3 linked regions of the Homo sapiens genome follow. The protein of the gene in region 3 interacts with the protein of the main gene of each other region in a biochemical or structural test. Each region holds a gene or a part of one and is shown on either strand. Other genes may lie near its edges.

Region 1 (7,000 bases), on a different chromosome or scaffold from region 3:
ACATTGCCTACCTCACAGCAGCAGATGGTTCAGTGATGAGGGCAAGTTCGAACTATAATATTTGGTTAGAAATGCTGAAAGGCCCCAGCCTAGGTTCTTCCTCATCTCTCTGAACTATAGAAAAATCTAAAGGGAACACAGAATAGAGTTTCTCAATCCCTCTCCCATTCCTAAATTGGGTTGTCTTGATTCCAATTACTATTCCAGCCTCAGCAAAGAACAATTAATTCTTGATTAAGACTACTGTGATTCTGGCATAGCCATATACTACTTTAAGAACGTTGCAAAGTGGTGTGAATAAGAGTTTTTGAAAAATTATATATATATATATATGAATGAATTAGGGGGCTCTTTAGCCAAGCAGTATGTCCTGGTGTCTGTTTTCAAATTTAAGGCCAAGAGGTGAATTTTTGAAAGTATCTCTCTATACTTCAGGCATTCAAAACTCACAAAAAAATTTACAAGGCAAAAGTTGTGTGAGGAACTATTAACTACCAAAGAAATCCTGTAGCTGGATTATTGGGTTATAAAGAGAAAAATATTAAAAGAAACTCAAATTATCTGCTCCATTCTCCCCACTCTCAAGAACTGAGCATAAAGTTTGTATGTTTTCCAAAAAGTAAAGATTCTTGAGATGGCTAATGCATTTCATTTTATGGTTTTTCTATGTTTGTTTTTATAAACCCTCGTTTATAAACTCTCTGCTTTAACAAGACTGCTATGAAAAAGTATCTCTGCTGCATTGGAAACTAATCCAGAGGAAGTTTAATAGCATGTAGGTTCTCACAAACATGTAGTGTACTGTCCTCTGGCTCCCAAAGGGAGAAGTCCTATGCACTGGACTCAGGCCCAACCCAGCCCCACCGGAGCCTGGAGTCTGATGAACTTGGTTGGTGGGTCCCATGGAGGTAAGGACAAGGACAGCAAGGAACCACATCCCGTAAGGCCAATTATCTTGTAGATAGTGACCTCATGTCACTGTTCTGCTAGCCAAACATATTCACAATTTCTAACAAATTCTTTATCAAAATCACTTTTTTTCTTTAATTATTGCTGAAAGACTTGTTCCCCCAGTAGGATGCAAACTTCTTCAGGGCAGGAATAGTGTCTGTCTGAGTGACTGTTACCTGAGGGCCTGACACAGTGCCAGACACACAATAGTCAATAAATATTTGCTGAATAAATACAATTTATAAATTTCTTGTTTTTATGTACTTGTTAAAAATGGTTTCACATAAAAAAACAAGCTTTGGCATTCTTGATTATCTGTAAAATACAGAAGTTGAAGCAAGCTTAATTTTTTTTTACCTGCCAGGTGTTTAAAGTAACCTGGTCATTTTTAAAAGTCAAATAGTCTATAAGCATAATATTAGTCAAGAAAAAGTGGCCAGCAGAACCACAGGCCAGAGAGAATAGCAAAAACAGAGGACTCATAACTTAACCCACTCTCACTCTCACCTATGTAGTTAAGTGATCTGAATTCTGACTGATTACCTGTAATGCTACAAATGGCAAAAGCAACGGCAGGAAAGAAGCCCACTCTGTTGTTTTTATTTTTTTAAAAGGCTTATGTTAAGGTTAACAAAAGCAAGGGAACTATTTAAGGTTGACTGGTGGGGACAGTTGGAAATTGCTCTAAATTTTTAGGGGCCCAGTAAACTAGTAAACTGTTGGCCCTTTACACCCAGGCATGCAGCTTATTTGCTAAGTATTCTTGTCCACAGCTGTTTTCAAGATAGTGGAGTGCTTAACCCAGTGACCCCACCCCCATGCCCCACACAAAAGCCTTGTGCATCAGCTGTATCAGGCCTAAAGGACTGAGTGAATTCCAGGTACATGTCCATACCCACACAGATTACCCACTTATGAGTCATGCACCAAAGGTGAGGTAAGACTCAGAACACAATTCTGTGATATCCATAAAAACATATTATTTTCCAACTTGACTTTACAACCTATTTATATACATTTGGGTAAATAATTATTACAATATAAGGTGATGTAACAATTTTTACACACCACTTTATCGCATATCACTTAGAGGCTTAGCAGGATTTTACACACATTCTTCAATTTTAGCTTCCTCTTTTACAATAAGGTAAATTTAAGTATCCTCATACAGCCATCAAAGTGACCTTATGCAAGCTAAAAAATATAGTTTCCAGGAATTACTTAGTGTTTCCTATAAAATTATGGAATCAAGATTGCTTAAAAGATAAAAATTTTTTCTTAAAAGTCTGGCTGTTAACTTAAAGCAAACTAAAAAGGCACTTGTTTGTGCTGCCCAGCAGTTGTAGGTTACCTCATTAACATTGATCTTTGACTTTGCAGAAGATTCTAAAAAGGCACAGTTACACCACTGTCTTGCTAAATTCTGGCCCTGCTCTTTGCCAACTACTCGCTCATCTTCCAGGTCACATTTATTGCCAACCAAAATCATTGGAACCTGTGGGAAGAAAAAAACGTAAAATGAACAATAACATACTCATTACTTAGCCTTTTAAAAAAATAAATAAGCAATTATCTGCCACCAACTGAAATGCATTAGTTGGGACCGCAAGCTTCATCAAATACTAACGAAAAGTATATGTTGAGGGGAAGAGGCGAAGGAAGAAGGAAGAGACAAAAAAAAAAAAAAAATGGAAGAGATCCTACTACATAGATATGCCAAATTATTTTAAGAATATAATCCTGGCCAGGCACAATGGTTCATGCCTGTAATCCCAGGGAGGCTGAGGTAGGAGGACTGCTTGAGCTCAGGAGCCTGAGACAAGCCTGGGTAACATAGTGAGACCTGGTCTCTACTAAAAAATTCAAAAACAATCAGCCAGGCAGGGTGGCACACACCTGTAGTCCCAACTACTCAGGGGGTTGAGGTGGGAAGATCACTTGAGCCCGGGAGGTAGACTGTGATGTGTGAATTATACCAATGGAATTTTAGAAATAAAAACACACCACTATGGATCTTAATAATGTTCTTTGAACACTGTTTCTGACACAACCATCACCTTTCAAAGCTCAACTCAGGTCCCACTTCTATGAAGTATTCTTTGGCTCCTCTTTTTCCTCTACTGCACTTTTTAACCTATAGCACAATGAGTACTTTATCACATATGTCCTCATTTTCTAAACATCTCACCACATAATTTTGAGGTTAATTTTGAAAGTTAAATTTTTTTCTTTTGGTCACAGGGGCTCTTTCAGGCATGTGGTAGATAGCTTCCAAATCCTCTACTAATAGAGAAAACAGGCACTTTTTTATTTGGCCACAGAGAGATGGCATAACATCTTACAGAGAGAAAAAATACTTACATCTTCCGTGTCCTTAACCCGTAAAATCTGTTCCCTCAGGTCCTGTAAGTCGTTAAACGTGGACTGAGCTGTAATAGAATATACTAGTGCAAAACCTTGGCCGTTCTTCATATACAAATCCCTCATTGCTGTAAATTGCTCCTATGATTTAAAAAATATGCAATTATAAATATATAAATTTCTTGAATGTATACTGCAACAATTTAAAACAGCATAATTACAAGTGAGTAACATTTTTTATTACTTGCTATCCTGACAGAAAACAAGACATAACACAAGTTTCTAGCAACTGAGGTGACTAGAAACAATGACAGTAAACTAGAATTAAAAAGGAATTCTTAACCACTTTAATTTGCTTTTGTGTGATTTAGAGCTGTATATAATTTTTTAGAAACAGATCTTTTGATCCTAAATAATTTTATTTGCAAATTTATGACACAACTACTGCCCAAGTGCTAACAATCTGAGGTATAAGCCCAATACTAAACTATGACTTCATCATCCAGAATCAATATCTCTACTGGCAGATTTTATCATCTTTCTTTTTCTATTCCCATGGCATAGCAATATTTTTATCATCTTGACAGTCAATAAACTCTTTATAAGAGCTTGTTAATGGTCAGGGGCAATGACTCACACCTGTAATACCAACACTTTGGAAGGCCAAGGCAGGTGTATCACCCCAGGTCAGGAGTTCAAGACTAGCCTGGCCAACACAGTGAAACCCTGCCTCTACTAAAAATACAACATTAGCCGGGCGTAGTGGTGCACACCTGTAGTCCCAGCTACTTGGTGGAAGAAGAATCACTTGAACCCGGGAGGTGGAGGTTGCAGTGAGCCAACATCGCACCACTGCACTCAAGCCTGGGCAACAAGAGTGAAACTCTGTCTCGGAAAAAAAAAAAAAAGAGCTTGTTCATGTATTTTCATTTTCCCCCTCATTCCAAACCTTTAGAAAAGATGTGAGAATAGTGCAATGACTATCTATCCCCTTTAGTTAAATTTACTAATGGTTAACATTTAGTTACTGAGCTTTAGTCATGCCAAATTAAAATTACTTAATTTTAAACTTCCTTTTATTTGGTGACAATCATTACTTTATGTTGTAACTATGGAGGTTAATATAAGACAAAATCTTCTTTTAGAAAAGTTTTGGTATTATATATATATATTACTTAAAAAGCACATATGGCAGAATATTAAAAATGTGTATGTCTTGGGTCTTTATATTAAATAACTATACAGTTTGGATCTTTTTACCTCTGGATGCATTAAACGTAAAAGATAAATCCACAAAGTTTCTTAAGCTTGTTGTGCCTTGGCTTCCTTGTTCCCCATGACCACTACCTCTATTTTGTCTACTACATCTAAAATAGTTCTGGTTGTTCTACCCTGGCTGATGTACTCTTTCTTGTATTCCAGGGAGTTAGCTATGCTACCACTCAGCCATTTCCCCAGCTTCAAATTCGTCTAAGGTGTGCCACAGGAACATGGCTGAGCTTCCTATACTGCTGCCAGTGTATTTTCTGGGAAAGATGTAAAAACTGGAAGTTTCCTGGATTTTTCATTGATAAAGTTTGCATATTCCAGAATTGCACCACTATGGTAACCAATTAAATTCTGCCACTGTCCAAATGTTTATATAATAAATGAGTTTACTTACAAATGTTAAGTGCTACAAATACTAGCAACACTATTTCTATGATGTTCTCTAGAGATCATGGTCTCTGCTTCTTATTAAATCAAAAGAATAAACATACAGGCAACCTGAGTTCTGAAAATCCAGTTTAAGAAAAGTCCTTACAGAACTGCTGTGGTTGGTGTTCCCTCCTATTGAGAATGCCAACCTCCTTCTTAAGGACATTCTACAAGTTTCATCCATTCACAACAAATATCCACTGACATAGTTGTAGCCCTATGGATATGTTAGTGATCATGAGAGGCAAAAATTTCTGCCCTGGAGGAGTATACATGGAGACAGACAAAAATCAAGTATGCAAGATGGTAATAAATGTTATAGAGAAAAGTAAAGGTTGGGAGTTTATTTTGAGGGTAGGAATATAAAGTTATATTTTAAAAGACTATGCTCAGGGAAGGCCTCACGGGTAACATTTGAGCAACCATGTGAGGGAGGTGAGGGAATAAGCTCTATGGTTATGTGGAGGAAGACTACCCCAAGCACAGGAAAGAGCAAATGCAAAGGCCCCAAAGGGAAACATGTCTAAAGTGTATGAGAAGCTGTAAGGAGGCTGGATTCATTGAAACATTGTTACCTAGTGGGTGAGTATAGCAGTGGGGGCCAGAGAAGGGACAAAGAGAGAGGATTCTCATTTGGACCTTTCAGGGAAATGTAATAAAGACCTGGGCTTTTACTCTGAGTTTAATGCATAATTTAAGCTGAGGAAAACATGATCTGACTTACATTTAAATGGAATTATGATGGTTACTGTGTGGAGAACAATCTGAAGGGGGTGAAGAAGAGAAGCAGGGAGATCAGTTTTGAGGTTATTGAAATAATCCAGCTGAGAGATGACAACTGTTTAGACCAAGATAGTGTCATTAGATTCTAGTGGTGGTAGCTGAGTTCTGGGTAAGTTTTTAAGGTAAAGCCAGTAGGGTTTTCTGAGAGTTTGGATGTACACATAATATAACAAAAAATACAGTCAAGGACGACTCCATGGTTTCAGGCATAACCAACTAAAAAGGTACTATTTACTGAGATGGGAAAGACTGGAAAGACCCAGGTCAGGGAAAGGTTATCAGGAGTTCAGTTTGGACATGTTATATTTGAGATGCTTATAAGACATACAAAAAGAGATATTGAAGAGGCAGTTAGATATAAGAGCTCGAAGTTCAGAAAAGAAATGAGAGATAGGGATATTGTTTGGATGTTTGTCACCTCCAAACCTTATGCTGAAATGTAATCCCCAGTGTTGGAGGTGAGGCCTGTGGGAGGTATTTGGGTCATGGAGGTGGATCCCTCATGAATAGCTTGGTGCTATCCTCACAATTATGAGTTCTCGTGAGATCTGGTTGTTTAAAAGTGTGTGGCATCTCCCGCTCACTCTTTGCTCTTGCCATGTAAAACACCTACTCCTCTTTGCCTTTCACTATGATTGTAAGCTTCCTGAGGTGTTCACCAGAAGCAGATGCTGGAGCTATGCTTGTATAGCCTGCAGAACCATGAGCCAATTAAACCTCTTTTCTTCATAAATTATCCAGCCTCAGGTATTTCTTTACAATAATGCAAACGGCCTAATACAGACAGGGTTACAAAGTTAGTATTTATCAGCATACAGATTGTATTTAAAACCAAGCAACTACAAGATCTCCAAAGCAGTGTTGTTAGGAAAGAGAAGTGCAAGTATTGAACCCTGAGGTCCTCCAACATTAAGAGGTAGGGGAGATAAAGAGGAATTAGGAAAGGAGACTTAGGAGTAACCAATGAGACAGAGGAAATCAGGCAAGTATTGTTTCTTGGAAGCCAAATGAATAAAGGTTTTACATTAGAAAGCAATGATAAACTGAGTCAAAGGCTGCTGAAAAGTCAAGGGAGTTGAGGATATATTCAAGAGAATTATAAATGATGGACCGTGGACCTGAAGCTATATGCAGAGGGGGTTGAAGATATAAGGGATAATAAAAAGATGTTAGGATAAATGGACTACAGGTTGTAACGAAGTTGAAG
Region 2 (7,000 bases), on a different chromosome or scaffold from region 3:
CCAAGATGATGTGGCCTCAGGCACAGCATAACTGGTACGGGCTTACTTCCATGTCGTGACAATACAAGGGCTTGACTTCCTAAATTGGGAGGTCCCTTCCAGCACTGACACCCTGCACTGACGGAACAGGGCAAAGACAGAAGCCTGTCAAAGCTGCTGCACCATGCCGAATCCCAGACAGAAGCCTCACTCAGTACGATCAGCCCCAGACACTTCTGCTTCCTTCTTTGGAAAATCCTCAATTTCCATCCAAGTTCTAAATGAATGAGAATCTTCTTTCCCAGACTCTGTGAGTGTATGGGGAAAAGGTGTAAACCTCAATTTCACATTGAGATACTGACATGTATTTCCCAATTGTTTCTTCCAGCCCTGCTCTTTAGGAGATTAAAATTTCCTTTCTACCGCAACCACATCTTCCACTCTCTTTTGATTCTTTTACCTTAACTGTTAAAGTTAACTTGAGAAGGAATGTGCAGATGGAAAGGGGCTAGTAAAAACGTCATCCTTAAGATGCCCTGGAGGACATTAACATTTACAGGCAAAAGCCTGAGGAGAAACAGGCTATTTGCAGGGTCTCAATGTATCTCCCTAAGATATGTGTTAACAACACAGAGAAAATACTGACTTCCCAGTGGAGAAAGGTGGCCAACAGTGCCTCAACCAAGCAACCCAGGCTTGCATCACCAGCCACTGGACAATATCACGCACTTCCTGATCAGATGATCTGAGCAGGGCTCAACGGCACGCCTGCGGTTTCTGTGCCAAAAAAATGCATCCCCTCATCCTGATGACGAGAAAATACCAGACAAACCCAAACAGGAAGATTCTACACAATACCTGGCCAGTGCTCTGGACATGTCAAGGTCATGAAAGGCAAGGAAAGATCAAGGAGCTATCATGGACTGCAAGAGACCAAGGGGACACAATGACTAAACACAATGGGGGATTCCAGGCCAGGATCCAGCAGACAGGAGCGCGAGAGGAAGCAGCGGACAGGACGCGAGAGGAAGCAGCGGACAGGACGCGAGAGGAAGCAGCGGACAGGAGCGCAAGAGGAAAGGTGGGTCACATTCAGACAAGGTCTACAGTTAATTGATGCTTTCATACCGATGTCAACTTCTTAGTTTTAATAGTTGTATAGTGGTTAAGATGTTAACATTAGGGGGACTTGGGAGAAGAATATAAGGAAATTGAACTGAGGGGACTATTAGCAGACTATATAGCACCTCTCAGATGATTGAGAAAAATAAAAATTACTCTGCAGGAAAAGGATGGGTAAAAGATATGAATAGGGTGGGGCATGGTGGCTCACACCTGAAATCCCAGCACTTTGGGAGGCCGAGGCGGGTGGATCACCTGAGGCCAGGAGTTCGAGACCAGCCTGGCCAACATGGTAAAACTCCATCTCCACTAAAAAATATAAAAATTAGCTGGTGTGGTGGTGGGTGCCTACAGTCTCTGCTACTCGGGAGGCTGAGGTGGGAGAATCACTTGAATCCAGAGGTGGAGGTTGCAGTGAGCTGAGATGGCGCCACTGCACTCCAGGCTGGGCAACAGCGCGAGACTCCATCTCAAAAAAAAAAAAAAAAAGGAAAAAAAAAGACGTTTCCAATAGCAAAATATGAAAAACAGTTCAAAAGTACCTCAATGAAAGAAGGAATGGATCCTAGTATCTTTCCACAGTGGAGCATCAGACAGCAGTGAAAAGGGAAGAACCGCTGCTATGTGCCTCGCCTGATGAAATTCCAACATGTGGAGTGAAAAAGGCAAGTCACAGAAGCATATATACTATACACTAAGAAATGACTTATATGAAGGTTAAGAATCAGTAAAACTCAAGACTGTCGTGTTTACAAATAATAAATGGGTATTATGGCAAAATCATAAGAACGGCAAAGGATTCATGACTTCAACTTGACTCTGGGTGCTAAGGGGGCAAACGGCTGTGAGAGTGAGAGGCATTTCTGGATACCCTGGGTGTGTATTAATATCAGCTGTGCACATTTATGCTGGTTATCAGAAAAATTGTACATTTTACTTTATATACGGTTAATTTTGAAAGGTAGAAAAAAACAAAAAGCAAACAGGCAAAACCCCCCAGATTTTCTGGTTATAGATTCAGACCCCAAATGAATCTAAATAACTGGGCTTTGTGAAGTTTTTAGACCTTAAAACGAAAGGAACAAATCTGAAGGGAACAACTGGGAGGAGTTGGATTTGCTTCCGAGGCGCTGATCTGAAGGCGTTCGTGAGTTGCCCATACCCACAGGTCCAAAGTGGGAAGCTGTTGTGGGGGGTGTTATTTCCTACTATGAACAAGATCTCTAAAAAAAACTAAATTTCTCGGGTTGTGCCAATGCTGATGATTCTAAGAACCCTCCGTATTCCCAGAAGAAAGCTATTGATCTTACCTGAGTGGCTCTTGCTCCTTCCCCTCTTGAGCCTTTTATATAGCATCTGCCTCCATCCCGTGTTTTGGTTGTTGATCATTACAACTTACGGTGATTTAGAGCTTGCTTGGACTGTTACACAGTTTTTAAGGAAATTCAACTAACGGTCCAAAATAGTCATGTAAAAAACACACTATCAGGTGCCCAGCAAGAAGGCCTACTCACTCACCAGCTGAAACTCGCTTCTCCGGCTGAAAGCCTCCCTGATGCCAGAATCCCTCCAGAGTGCGCTCAGGGCCGGGACGTACAGCTGGAAGGTGGCCGGCTCCACAGGCAGCCCCGCCTTGTTCTCGAAGGCCATCAGGAACATCCCATGCTTCTCATTTTCAGAATACTGCCAAGGAATGCCAAGCTTATCTCGTGCATCAACAAGAACCCTTGAGCCCTAGAAAATAAAAGAAAGAAGAGAGGATTTAATTGCATTCCAAAGACTAAACCACGCTAGAGAAGCTCAAAATGGGCATCCATTGTCATAACGCAGAAAACTCACAAGCTCTGAGCTGTGCAGCCTGAGTCTGTCTCTTGGTTTGTTTGTTGTGATGTGGAAAGTCTTAACTCTCAGCAGTATAACCTCACCAAGACAGACGCACATGGCCGAGAGCAGTGGCTCACACTGTGAGCCTCCCCTTTGGGAGGCCAAAGAGGGAGGACTGCTGGAACACAGGAGTCTGAGACCGGCCTGGGCAACAGAGCAAGACCCTGCTTCTACAAAAAATTAAATCAAATTAAAAACAGCTGGGCTTGGTGGTGGCACACCTGTAGTCTCAGCTGAGCGGGGAGGATTGCTTGAGCCCAGGAGGTCAAGGCTACGGTTATCTATGATTGCTGCACTATATTCTAGGCTGGGCAACAGAGCAAGACCCTGTTTCAAAAAAAAAAAAAGAAAAGAAAAAAGAAAAAAAAGAAAACAGATGTACATAAGCACCACAGAAAGAAGTCTGCTTTCTGCTATCATTCATTTGCAAAGCTACTGGAAAAAAGACAACTGGGCGGGGAGGAGGTGGCAACAATTTCAGAAAATTTCACTGGAAAATGAAGTGTATCAGTAAAAAAACAACTTTTTTTTTTTTTTTTTTCTTAGATGGAGTTTCACTCTTTTTGCCCTGGCCTGGAGTGCAATGGAGTGATCTCGGCTCACTGCAACCTCCGCCTCCCAGGTTCAAGCAATTCTCCTGCCTCAGCCTCCTAAGTAGCTAGGATTACAGGTACCTGCCACCAGGCCCGGCTAATTTTTTATTTTTAGCTGAGATTACAGACCACCACGGACTGCTAATTTTTGTATTTTTAGTAGAGAGGGGGGTTCCACCATGTTGTCCAGCCTGGTCTCGAACTCCTGACCTCAGCTGATCCGCCCGCCTCAGCCTCCCCGCCAAAAAAACAATGTTTTAACAACAACTATAGTAGCCTCCACCCCTTATCCGTGGCATAAGTTCCAAGACCCTCAGTGGATGTCTGAACGGTACCAAGCCCTACCTGTATTGTTTTTAAAGTTTAATTTAATTTATGAATTAGGCACAGTAAGAGATTAATAATAGCTAATAATAAAATACAACAATTATAACAATATACTGTCATGAAAGTTAAGTAAATATGGTCTCTCCTTCTGTCTCTCAAATGTGGTATCACCGTCCGCGCCTATTTTCCGTTGGCGGCTGGCTGTGGATAACGGGAGATGACTGTACTGCCAAGAGTACTACCAGCGCTACTATTGTCATCATCACTGAAATCTGGCAGCTCCTCTATTCCAAAAGATACAACTGCTTCTTCCAGCTTAAAACGGGTGGGAAAACATACAAATCCAGGCAGTCAGCAGTCATGAGACAGGAAAAGACTAAAATACGACAAGCCAAGTAGCCCGCCCACCAAAACGGGAGCCAGGGGATCATGTTCTAGATTTAACGTCACCATCGTTTGTGATGAGAAACTACTTTTCATTCTTTTGCTTGTTTCCTCATTGTTAAAGATAAAGTTAATGTTGTTCTGCCCCTTCTTACCTCATCAACAGGGTCAAAGGGATGAAGAAATAACTAACATAGTATTAGGGAATGCAGCCAGCCTTTGGAAAATATTCTCTCAGCAAAAACAGCACCCCCTGAGCAGTTAGGAGGTCTGTTCCACCATCCTTAGACTAATGTTTCGAAATCAGCAAGGCAGTGTTTATGAGAACTTCTGTGTTCTTCTGAGGGGCACACTGCATACTCTCTGGTATGGTCTACACTGGGGGTATACAGAGTGGTCAAGGGCCCTGAGAAGGCTATCAAGTACACATCTGTCCATCTGGAAAAGCCTTCTCATCTCAGAGCAATCTGAGGGACTCAGGCCAGCTGAGAGCAGCATCCCATCCTCCAGGACAGAGAAAACCAGGGTCACCTGCTCACTAGGCACTTATCTATGTTCCTTTTTTGGAGACTGGGTCTTGCTCTGTCACCCAGGCTGGAGTGCAGTGGCATGAACATGGCTCACTGCAATCTCGACCTTCTGGGCTCAAGTGATCCTTGCCCGTAGCCTCTCAAGGAGCTGGGACCACAGGCATGCCTCGTTACGCCCGGCTAATTTTAAGATTTTCGTAGAGTCAGGGTCTCACTATATTGCCCAGGCTAGTCTCAAACTCCTGAGCTCAACTGATCCTCTGGCCTTAGCCTTCCAAAGCACTAGGAATTACAGGTGTGAGCCACTGCATCCGGCCTTTTTTTTTTTTTCCTTTTTAAATAACAGTTTTACTGTGCTATAATCCATGTACCATATAACTCATCAATTTGAAGTGTACAACTTAATGATTTTTAGTTGGCACTTATCCTAAAAATCTTCATTTCTGACACCCAGGGCAGAGCAGATGAATCCATTCTGCCTCCTTCATCTCTCTCCTGCAGCATCAATTTGGTGCCTATAACTTCCACTTCTGCCTTGAACCACTGAGTCAGACGTAATGATGACCAAAGAGTAGTTGAAAGTCTCCTCCAGACCCAGCTGACCAGGACGGTCTGGTTAGAGATGCTCCCTGATTTTCCCCTCAGGACCTTGTCTGTCTGCCGTTGGAGACCATGCCTAGTTCTACCAATCCACAAACATTTGTTCAGTGTGTTTGTTTGTGGGGGAAACAAACTTTAAGAAGCAGTATCTGACCCCCAGAAACTCAGAGTCTGGCTAGAAAGACAAATGTATGGATAAAAAAAATACTTACCACCCACTCATGATTTTAAAAAACCTTTGCAAACTAGGAACAGAGAAATGCTTCAACTTGATAAAGAACACTGACAAAAAAACATACAGCTAACCTCATAATTAATGTGAAAGACTGAATGCTTTCCCTCCAACACTAGGAAAAGACAAAGATGCCTACTTCTGCTACTGCTATTCAACATGGTTCTGGAAGTTCTAGCCAGTGCGACAAGGTAGGAAAATGAAATAAAAGATCACACAGCTCAGGAAAAGCAGGGGGGAAAACAAATAGATTAGACACACAAAAAAAGAAAACACACAACTAAACCCATTTGCAGATAAAAAGATGATCTATGTTGAAAATCCCAAAGTAATCTACCAAAAAAACTCCTAGAATAAACAAATGAATCCAGAATAGTTGCAGGATATAATGTCAACACACGAAATTCAATTGTCTTTCTATATACTAGCAATGAACATGTGGAAAGTGAAATGAAAGATGTACTACTACTAACTATCACTAAAAAAACGAAACAGGTATAAATCTAACAAAATATGTGTAGGACTTATGTGCTGAAAACTGCAAAATGTTGAGGAAAGAAATTTTCAAAATCTAATAGATATACCACGGTCACGAATTAGAAGATTCAACACGGTACCAATATCCTTAAATTAATAAACAGGTTTAGCACAATTTCCATAAAATCCCAGCAGGATCTTTTGTAGATATAAATATGATTATTTGAAAATTTATATGAAAAAGCATTAAATTAGCTAAAGCAACTTTGAAAAAGAAAAGTGGGAACAATCAGTCTATCTGATTTTAAGACTTATTATATAGCTATGATAATCAAGACTGTGTGGTATTGGTGAGGTGACAGACCCACAGATCAATGGAACATAACAGAGAACCCAGGGATAGCCCCTGATACAGCTAGGTAATTTTTGTAAAAGTGCAAAAGCAATTAAAAAGAGGAAGCCTGGTCTTTTCAACAAACGCTGTTGGAGGAAGTGGACTTCCACAGGTAAAGAAAATTGGGGGGAGCGGGGGAGGGGGTGGGGAAGAACCTTGACCTAAACCTCACAGCTTATACAAAATCAAATCAAAATGTAGAACTATATATAACATAGGAGAATATCTTCAGGATGTAGGGTGTGCTCAAAGTTCTTAGATGTGACTCCAAATACATGATTCACACGAGAAAAATTATCAATAAATTGAACTTGATGAAAACGAAAATATTTTGCTCCGCCAAAGACCCTCTTAAGAGGCTGAAAAGAAGCTATGAACTGGGAGAAAATATTTGCCAACCACACATCTGCCATATCTGACAAAGGACTCATTTAGAATATACAAGGACATTCAAAACTCAACAGTTAGGCCAGGCACA
Region 3 (8,123 bases):
AAGGCATCATTTTTATTATTTCCCACAAAGTGTATTGTCCAATATCTAAGCTTGGGCAATTCAAGATTCAAGTACTGTTAAACATTCACTTTAATAAATTTGCAAACTGGCCAGGTGAGGTGGTTCATGCCTGTAACCCCAGCACTTTGGGAGGCCAAGGTGGGAAGATCGCTTGAGCTCAGGAGTTTGAGACCAGCCTGGGGAACACAGTGAGACCCTGTCTCACTATGAAACATGACCACGGACGTGGAGGGTGCATGCTCATCCCACTCAGAGGTAGAAACGCTCAACTGAGGCAGGGAAATTTTAAAAAGGCAAAGGAGGGGATACTCATTATCTTTGCAAGTGCTTGGTGCCAGGTCTGGAACTGTGCACTTGCCAAGTTCTTATCTCCTTATTCCTTATCACAATAATAATGAAATGACAGCTGACACAAAAGAGACACTTAGTATGTGCCAGGCATGGCATCGCTGGTTGACAGGTAATAACTCATTTAATCCTCTCGGTGACTCCAAGAGATCATTATTATTCTCACCTCCATTTAACAAAGAAGGAAACTGAGGCACAGCTCATAAGAGGCAGAACCAGGACTCAGACCTGGGCAGTTGGGCTACAGAGTTTACGCATTTAAAATAAACTGCATTTGGTGGACACAGTGGCTCACACCTGTAATCCCAGCACTTTGGGAGACCAAGGCAGGTGGATCACTTGAGCTCAGGAGTTCGAGACCAGCCTGGCTAACATGGTGAAACCCCCATCTCTACAAAAGATAGCCAGGTGTGGTGGTTCATGCCTGTAGTCATAGCTACTTGGGAGGCTAAGATGAGAGGATCGCCTGAGCCCAGGAGGCAGAGGTTGCAGTGAGCCAAAATTGTGCCACTGCCCTCCAGCCTGGGCGACAGAGTGAGACCTTGTCTTAAAATAAAATAGGCTAGGCACGGTGGCTCTCGCCTGTAATCCCAGCACTTTGGGAGACCAAGGCGGGCGGATCACGAAGTCAAGAGATCGACACCATCCTGGCCAACATAGTGAAACCCTGTCTCTACTAAAAATACCAAAATTAGCTGGGCGTGGTGGCACGAGCCTGTAGTCCCAGCTACTCGGGAGGCTGAGGCAGGAGAATCGCTTGAATCCGGGAGGCGGAGGTTGCAGTGAGCTGAGATCGCGCCACTGCACTCCAGCCTGGTAACAGAAGTGAGACTTCGTCTCAAAAATAAATAAATAAATAAATAAAACAAAATAAAACAGAGAGCATTGCTTCAGAGCATGGGGAGCCCCCACCCTACCCTTCAGAAACTAAAATCTGAACCAAAGCTCTGAGACACATCATGTCTTCTTATGGATGCCTGGAAAAGTCACGGGTATGTGGTCACTATGGCCTAGGCAGGAGTGCAAGTTGGATACGGCTGCTCCACAGAGGCTTGGGGGTTGGAGATGATGGAGGCGAGGAGTGTCGCCTGTTTAGGAGGAGGGGTTTGGGGGAGTCCCACAAAGGCTGGAGAATTATAGGTGAAGCTGTCAGAGAATAGATGGATCTATAGGCAACTGACAAGGCCTGGGGGGTCCAGCAGAGGGAACACTGCGTGCATGGGGCGCTGGGGGGTTAGGGCTGGTTTAGAAGGTCCATGGGTTGGGGGGCCACATGGGTGTTGAGTTCTATGGAGGTCTCAGGGTCTATAATGTGTTGAGCAGGTGACTCAGGGTCTCCAAGAACTTCTGGAGCCTTAAAGAACCTAAAAGAGTCGTTGGAATGTGTAACTCCCCAGATTCTATTTGACACACAGTGGGTCTAAAGGATCCAGGGATCATACAGGATCATGATTCTATAGGGACAGCTGCCAGTCTGTGGAACCTCTGGAGACTTAAAAGGGACTCAGAATTCCATAGGGGTGCGTGGTGGGTCCCGAGACCCATGGTCTATAGAGCCCCGGATTCTAGGGGATGCCACTGGTCTATGAGGACCCCACGTCTATAAGAAGCCAGTTCTCCATGGGGGGCTGGCAGGAACCTGGAGGGTCTGTAAGACTTTATACGGAATGAGGCGGGTCTACACGAGACCCAAATCTTACATGGACGTGGCGGGTCTTACGCGGGCCCTAAATCCTACGGGGGACGTGGCAGTGTGCACGGCCAGGGATGCCGGGGAGGACGTGCAGAGTCAGGGTCTGACACCCGCTGGGGACCGCGTCCCTCACCTGCTCCAGGTGGAAAGAGAAGCCATCGCCGCCACCGGAACCGAAGCCTCCGCGCTCGGGCTCCGCACTCTCCCCACCCCTGCCGCCGCGTCGCTCTAGCCGCCCTGAGTCCACCTTTGCGCCCAGCTCCACTCCTCCTGCCAGCCGCTCTAGCCCGGCTCCTGCCGGGCTCCGGCCCCGACGACTCTACTCCTCCCGCCGGCCGCTCTAGCGCTGTACTGCGCCACGCAGGCCAGATAGGGCCGCTCTGGCCTGTCTTGGAGGGCCAGCGTTTCCGTATCTCGACTGCCCCCGTCACTCCCCGGGCCCCGCCCCGCGCCCGGAGGTGCAGATGGGTCCAACTCCTCCCGAGTTCGATCGGAGATCTCCTAGTCACCCCAGCGCTGAGCACTCGGACGGCGGACTGGGGCTCCCCGTCCTATTAGTCTCCCCACTTAGGGGACCCGCTGAATTTCCAATCCTCGTACATCAATCCCCTCCGTCTCCCACCCCCAGCCCCTTCCTTTGGAACCGGAAAAGCAATAGTCTTGAGTTCCAGCACAACTTTCCCTCTGACATGCAGTGTAATCTGCAAAAAGTAATGACTTCTCTGTAGACCTCAGTCTTCCCATCCGTACAATGGGAGAAGGCCTCCAGCTCTCTCCCTACACCTGTCTCTCACGGTATAATTAATGACCTAGAAAAGAGCTTTCCGAAAACTCTTTCAAATGCACTCTGCAACTTTCAGCTTCACAGCGACCCTCGTCGTTGTTGTTATTGTTGTTTTTCATTTTTAGGTGGCCCTAAAGCATGCGGGGGTTGGAGGATGGCGCTTTGCGGAAAGCACGTGCGAGTTCAAATCCCAACTCCACACTTTCTCACGATGTGCGTTCCCTGGGACGAGTCGGTTTGGCTCCCCGGGCCTCGGTTTCCCCACCCGTACAATGGTAGTGATCGTCCGTTCTCCACTGAGCAGGTGGGAGGCCTTGGCCCCGGCCTCGCACCGTTCGTCCCCACCTATGGGGCACTCGTCAAGTGTGAGTTCTCCCCTCTTTGCTCCCTTTGACAGATGGGAAAACTGAGGCCCAAGGAGGGGCGGCCGCTGGTTCCGTGGGGTCCGAAGGGGGCCCCTCCGCTGCCGGCAGCGCCCCAGCCCCTCCCTCCTCCTCCCCACTTCCCCCAACAGCCGAGGGGAGGAGGCCGGGCGGGGCCGGGGACCGAGTACCTGGTGTCCGCGCGGAGGTGACCGGCGGGGCGCCCGAGGTCGGGCTCGGCGATCCCGGGCCCTGGGTCCCGGCTCCCGCTTCCTGGCTCTGGCGGGGCAGGAAGTCGGGGCGTTTTTCCGGAGGCCCCCGCCCCGCCGCCCCTCCCCGCTTCCTGCCCGCGCCCCGCGCCCGCCCGGCACCTCCGCTTCCTTCCCCTTCTCGCCGCTTGCCCGCCCCTCCTTTCCCCGCTGCGCCCGGGTCCCTGCGGGCACCGGCCCCCGCCCCGGCCGCGCCCGAGCTCTCCCCGGCTTTGTCCATCGGTCCGTCCGCCGGGCGCGGGCTCCGCGGGACTCGCATCTCCCGGCTGGGGTCACCTCCCCGGAGGTGCTGGGGGGCAAGCCCTGCTCCCCGTGCGCCCTAGACCGAGCCACGACCTCCCCGGCTTTCCGCGTCTGTGGTTCTCATGGTCTTGCGCCCTTCCTTCGCCTCTGTGGGTGTGCTCCCGCCTGCGTCTGCATCCCCTTCTCTGTCCCTCTGTCTTTCTCTACTGGGGTCTTTCCCTCCTTGGCCTCCACCTCTCCTCTCTGTCCCTCCATCACTTTCTCCCCGAAAGCCCTTCTCTACCCTCTCCAGCTCTCTCTGTATCTTTCTGCATCTCCGTCTCAGTCTCTGTCATTTCCCCAGCTGTTGCTGTGCCTGGGCCTCTTCGTGCCCATTTTCGGTTGCCCCTTCTCCCTTCTGTCTCTTCCTTTCCTTCTCGCTCTCTCTCTGTCCCTTTCTCTCCACGTCCCTGTCTCTCTCCCGGATTCCCAGGGTCTCATCATCTCTTCCTTCCCTTGCTCGTCCCCTTCATGATCCCTGGGTCTCAGCCTCTCTCCTCTCCCTTTCTCAGGAAATCCGTGTCTCTGTGCCTCTCTGTCATTGCCCCGGGATCTCCCTGCTATCCCCAGGTTAGGACCACAGACCCTCCAAAATGCCCCTTCTGTAAGTCAACGCATCGGGAAAAGGCTGCAGTCTGAATTCTGTACTAGCCCCAATCCACAAGATAGTCCCTGTGTTTCCAAGGCTTAAATACGCATAAAGTGGCTCATGCCTGTAATCCCAGCACTTTGGGAGGCCGAAGCATGGTGGATCACTTGAGGTCAGGAGTTCGAGACCAGCCCGGCCAACATGGCGAAACCCTGTCTCTACTAAAACAAAAATTAGCTGGGTGTGGTAGCACATGCCTGTCATCCCAGCTACTCGGGAGCCTGAGGTACAAGAATCGCTTGAGGTGGAGGTTGAAGTGGGCTGAGATTGCGCCACTGCACTCCAGCCTGGGCGACAGAGTCAGACTCTGCCTCAAAAAAAAAAAAAAAAAAAAAAAAAGCGGCCGGGCGTGGTGGCAGGCGCCTGTAATCCCAGCACTTTGGGAGGCCAAGGTAGGTGGATCACCTGAGGTCAGAGGTTCAAGACCAGTCTGGCCAACATGGTGAAACCCCGCCTCTACTAAAAATACAAAAATTAGCTGGGCATGGTGGCAGGCGCCTGTAATCCCAGCTACTTGGGAGGCTGAGGCAGGAGAATCGCTTGAACCCAGGAGGCAGAGGTTGCAGTGAGCACTCCAACCTGGGCAACAGAGTGAGACTCTGTCTCAAAAAAAAAAAAAAAAAAAAAAGTGTAAGTAATTTGGTAGCCACAGCCATCTTGATCTTGTCCCCTTCTTGCTTAAGGATATGACCCTAGGGTGAGGCCCTGCAAAGAGGGCCAAACCAGTCCTTCAGTTGGTCTGGGGACCTTCCCAAGAGACATCTTGTTCTCCCAGGAGGGCAGCCCAGACTGGCTACCTGGTCCCAGGTGTGGGGAGTGGGCAGGGAGTGGCTTGGGCTGGGACTCCTGGGTCTGAGGGACATGTGGGAGAGGCGGTTCCCGTAAGATCCACGACTCCTGCCAAGGTCTGCAGTTGGGAAGAATTTATTATCACTAAGTGGCCCTGACAGATCAGGGAGGAGGGGGTGACACTAACGAGGCTGCTACAATCAGCTCCCCTAGAGGCAGCGATTAAGGGCTCATTACCCGCTGGGGTGAGGGGAGCCTGGGAAAGGCAGCGGGGCGGGGGGATTAGGTTAGGAGGTGGGGCAGTTTAGAGGGAAGAAGAGTGGGACACCCCCAGGGGAGTCCAAGGAGGCCTGGCCTGGAGAAGAGTGAGGTTACCCTCCCACCCCCCACTGGGGGAATATGACTAAGGAAGCCCCCAGAAGGGCTGAAAGGAGAATGTCCCAGGGAAGTGAGCTGAGACACTGGAGCTGGGTGCACAGCAGGCGGGGGCAGCCTGGCAGGAGTAGGGGTGTCACGGCTTCTCCAGCTGGACATCTCCTATGTTGAGGCTGCCCACATCCTGGTAGGTGCCCTGGAGGCCCCGGGAGATGTCCTCATACATGGAGCAGTCGTCCAGGTTCAGGCCCTGGGATGGAAATGAGGCAGCGAACATCAGCACCCTGACACCTGGGGTCCCTGCCCCCAGCCACCCCCAGAGGGAACACCCCCACCCCTAACACAACTGCCCCTACCCCATCCCCACCCTTCACTCACTTCATAAAGGTTTTCATCTTCATATTCATCCCCGGCATCCAACCCGAGCTTCTCGTTCTGCCATCGTTTCTGTAGGGGTGGGTGGGGTGGGTGCCTCAGTGAGCAGGGGGAGGTGAATATCTTTCAGACCCTCCTGGATGCCAGGAAGTACTTTTCCAGAAAGGGTAAGAGATGTCCCCAAGGCCACATACTGGTTATGTAACAGTTCTCTCTGAGTCTACAACCAGTGTTCTCCTTCCTTCCTTCCTTCCTTCCTTCCTTCCTTCCTTCCTTCCTTCCTTCCTTCCCTTCCCTTCCTTCCCTCCCTCCCTCTCGCCCTCTCTCTCTCTCTCTCTCTCTCTCTCTCTTTCTCTCTCTCTCTCTTTCTTCTCCCTCAGTTGCCCAGGCTGAAGTGCTGTGGCAACATCATATTTCACTGCAGCCTTGAACTCCTGGGCTCAAGCAATCCTCCCACCTCAGCCTCCTGAGTAGCTGGGACTATAGGTGTGTGCCACCATGCCTGGCTAATTTTTTTTTAAGACTTTGTGTGTGTAGAGATAGGGTCTTGCTGTGTTGCCCAGGCTGGTCTCAAACTTGTGGCCTCAAGTGATCCTCTTGCCTCGGCCTCCCAAGCTAGCGTCTTCTTGAGTCTCCACTCCCTTACTATTCTCCATGAATAATAACAATAACAGTCACACTTTCTGTAGTGCCTAAGGAGAGGCTGGTACAGATCAGAGATTCTGGGAGGACCAGGCCCCACCTTCCCTGGTCTTGGCTACACCTGGAGGGTAACCACACTCCTGGGTGAGGGCAGGAGGGGAGTGAGGACACTCTTAGGGAGAAGAATGAGACTCTTCTTGGGGGGAGGTGGACGTGAGGACAGCCCAGAAGGGGAAACTAAATTGAAGACACCCCCTGGGCTCAGCGCCAGTTCAAGTCCCTTCTTTATATTCATTCATTTAACTCCCACAGCCCCTATATGGTGGGTGCTTTCATTCTCCCAAGTTTTGGATGGGGAACCTCAGGCTCTAGAGGGCTACCTGGGTATTGGGGGTCCCTCGGCCCAGGCCCTCGCCCGGCTGACTCAGAGGTCCGAGGGGGCTCACCCTGAACAGCAGCAGCGTCCCAGGCACCACCGCGCAGAACAGGAGGATGATCCCCTCGGCTGTGATGATTCGGTTCTTGGTGCCCTCCCCCATGTCCAGGAAGGGCCTGGGGGGCGGCTCTGCAAGGAGGTAGTATGGCTCAGAGCCCTGGCCCCTCTTGCCCTCCCTAGCCTCCTGGCCCCGCCCACCTCCTGCAAGGCCCCAGACCCCCCAGAGACCCCACTCTGCAGAGGAGAATGTCCGTCCCTCTGTCCAAGCCGGTTTGAAACCCACATTGAAGGTACTGGCTCTATCCCCACTTCAAAGATAAACCGAGTGTCCCCAGCGGGACAGTGGGAGTAGGGGCCAGGGCTGGGCCACTCACGGCGCACGCGGAGGTAGGTGCCGCAGGACTGCTGGTATGACTCGTTGCCCTCCTGGACCCGGCACACGTATATGCCCCCATGGCTCTTGTTCACATTCTGGATGATCAGCGTACCATTGGGGTCCTCGCCCGGGCCCAAGAACTCAGGGGGCCACGTGTAGTTGCCATGGAGGACGCGCCACCAGGTGACGTTGGCGTTGTTGCTGCTATTGTGCGGGCATTGGAAGTGGGCGTCTTCCCCCAGGCTCACCATCAATGATGCTGGGACCTTGTGCATCCACAGGGCCTGGCACCCAGGGCCTGTGGAGAGACAGGGTGGGTGGGTCAGGGACTGGGGATGGTGACACATTTCCCCAGCCCTGGCCCCTGCAGTTCCAGCACTCCTGGGAAGAGGGTGAGGACTCTCCTGGGTGGGGAGGGAGAGAGAGAGCCCCTGACAGGGGCTGATACATCCTGGGGAGAGGGGGGATGCGGGAAAGTGAAGAAGCCCCTGGGAAGGAGAGAGGACATACCTGGTTGGGGTGGGTGAGGATATCCTGGGAGAGGAGAATGAGACTCCCTGGGATGGTAAGACCCCTGGGAGGCCCTTCTCACCTCTGCAGCGCCATCTCTTGCCCCCCTCCCGCATACCCACTTTGTACTCTGGCCCTGTGAACTCTCTGGATTTTGGATGTTTGTTCCAGGCACTGGAGGACCGCTGTCCAGACAGCTCCTTCCAGAAGCA

The links.
Region 1: of the proteins of ARHGEF1 (region 3) and RAP1A, one has a biochemical effect on the other in vitro, tested with the Homo sapiens proteins (one study listed by BioGRID).
Region 2: the proteins of ARHGEF1 (region 3) and GNA12 form a complex in vitro, tested with the Homo sapiens proteins (one study listed by BioGRID).

Annotation. Positions count from the first base shown.
Region 1 is NC_000001.11:111,699,789-111,706,788, reverse strand, and holds part of RAP1A (ras-related protein Rap-1A precursor), read right to left. Parts: intron 3,454-7,000; coding exon 3,313-3,453; intron 2,447-3,312; coding exon 2,303-2,446; intron 1-2,302. UniProt on the Homo sapiens protein: Counteracts the mitogenic function of Ras, at least partly because it can interact with Ras GAPs and RAF in a competitive manner. Together with ITGB1BP1, regulates KRIT1 localization to microtubules and membranes.
Region 2 is NC_000007.14:2,792,309-2,799,308, forward strand, and holds part of GNA12 (guanine nucleotide-binding protein subunit alpha-12), read right to left. Parts: intron 2,836-7,000; coding exon 2,620-2,835; intron 1-2,619. UniProt on the Homo sapiens protein: Guanine nucleotide-binding proteins (G proteins) are involved as modulators or transducers in various transmembrane signaling systems. Activates effector molecule RhoA by binding and activating RhoGEFs (ARHGEF12/LARG).
Region 3 is NC_000019.10:41,878,566-41,886,688, reverse strand, and holds the start of ARHGEF1 (rho guanine nucleotide exchange factor 1), read right to left. Parts: upstream 3,506-8,123; 5' UTR 3,400-3,505; exon of another isoform or gene 2,222-3,399; coding exon of another isoform or gene 2,196-2,221; intron 1-2,195. Other genes in the region: CD79A (B-cell antigen receptor complex-associated protein alpha chain isoform 1 precursor), read right to left, coding at 5,709-5,822, 5,951-6,019, 7,036-7,154, 7,400-7,699. UniProt on the Homo sapiens protein: Seems to play a role in the regulation of RhoA GTPase by guanine nucleotide-binding alpha-12 (GNA12) and alpha-13 (GNA13) subunits. Acts as a GTPase-activating protein (GAP) for GNA12 and GNA13, and as guanine nucleotide exchange factor (GEF) for RhoA GTPase.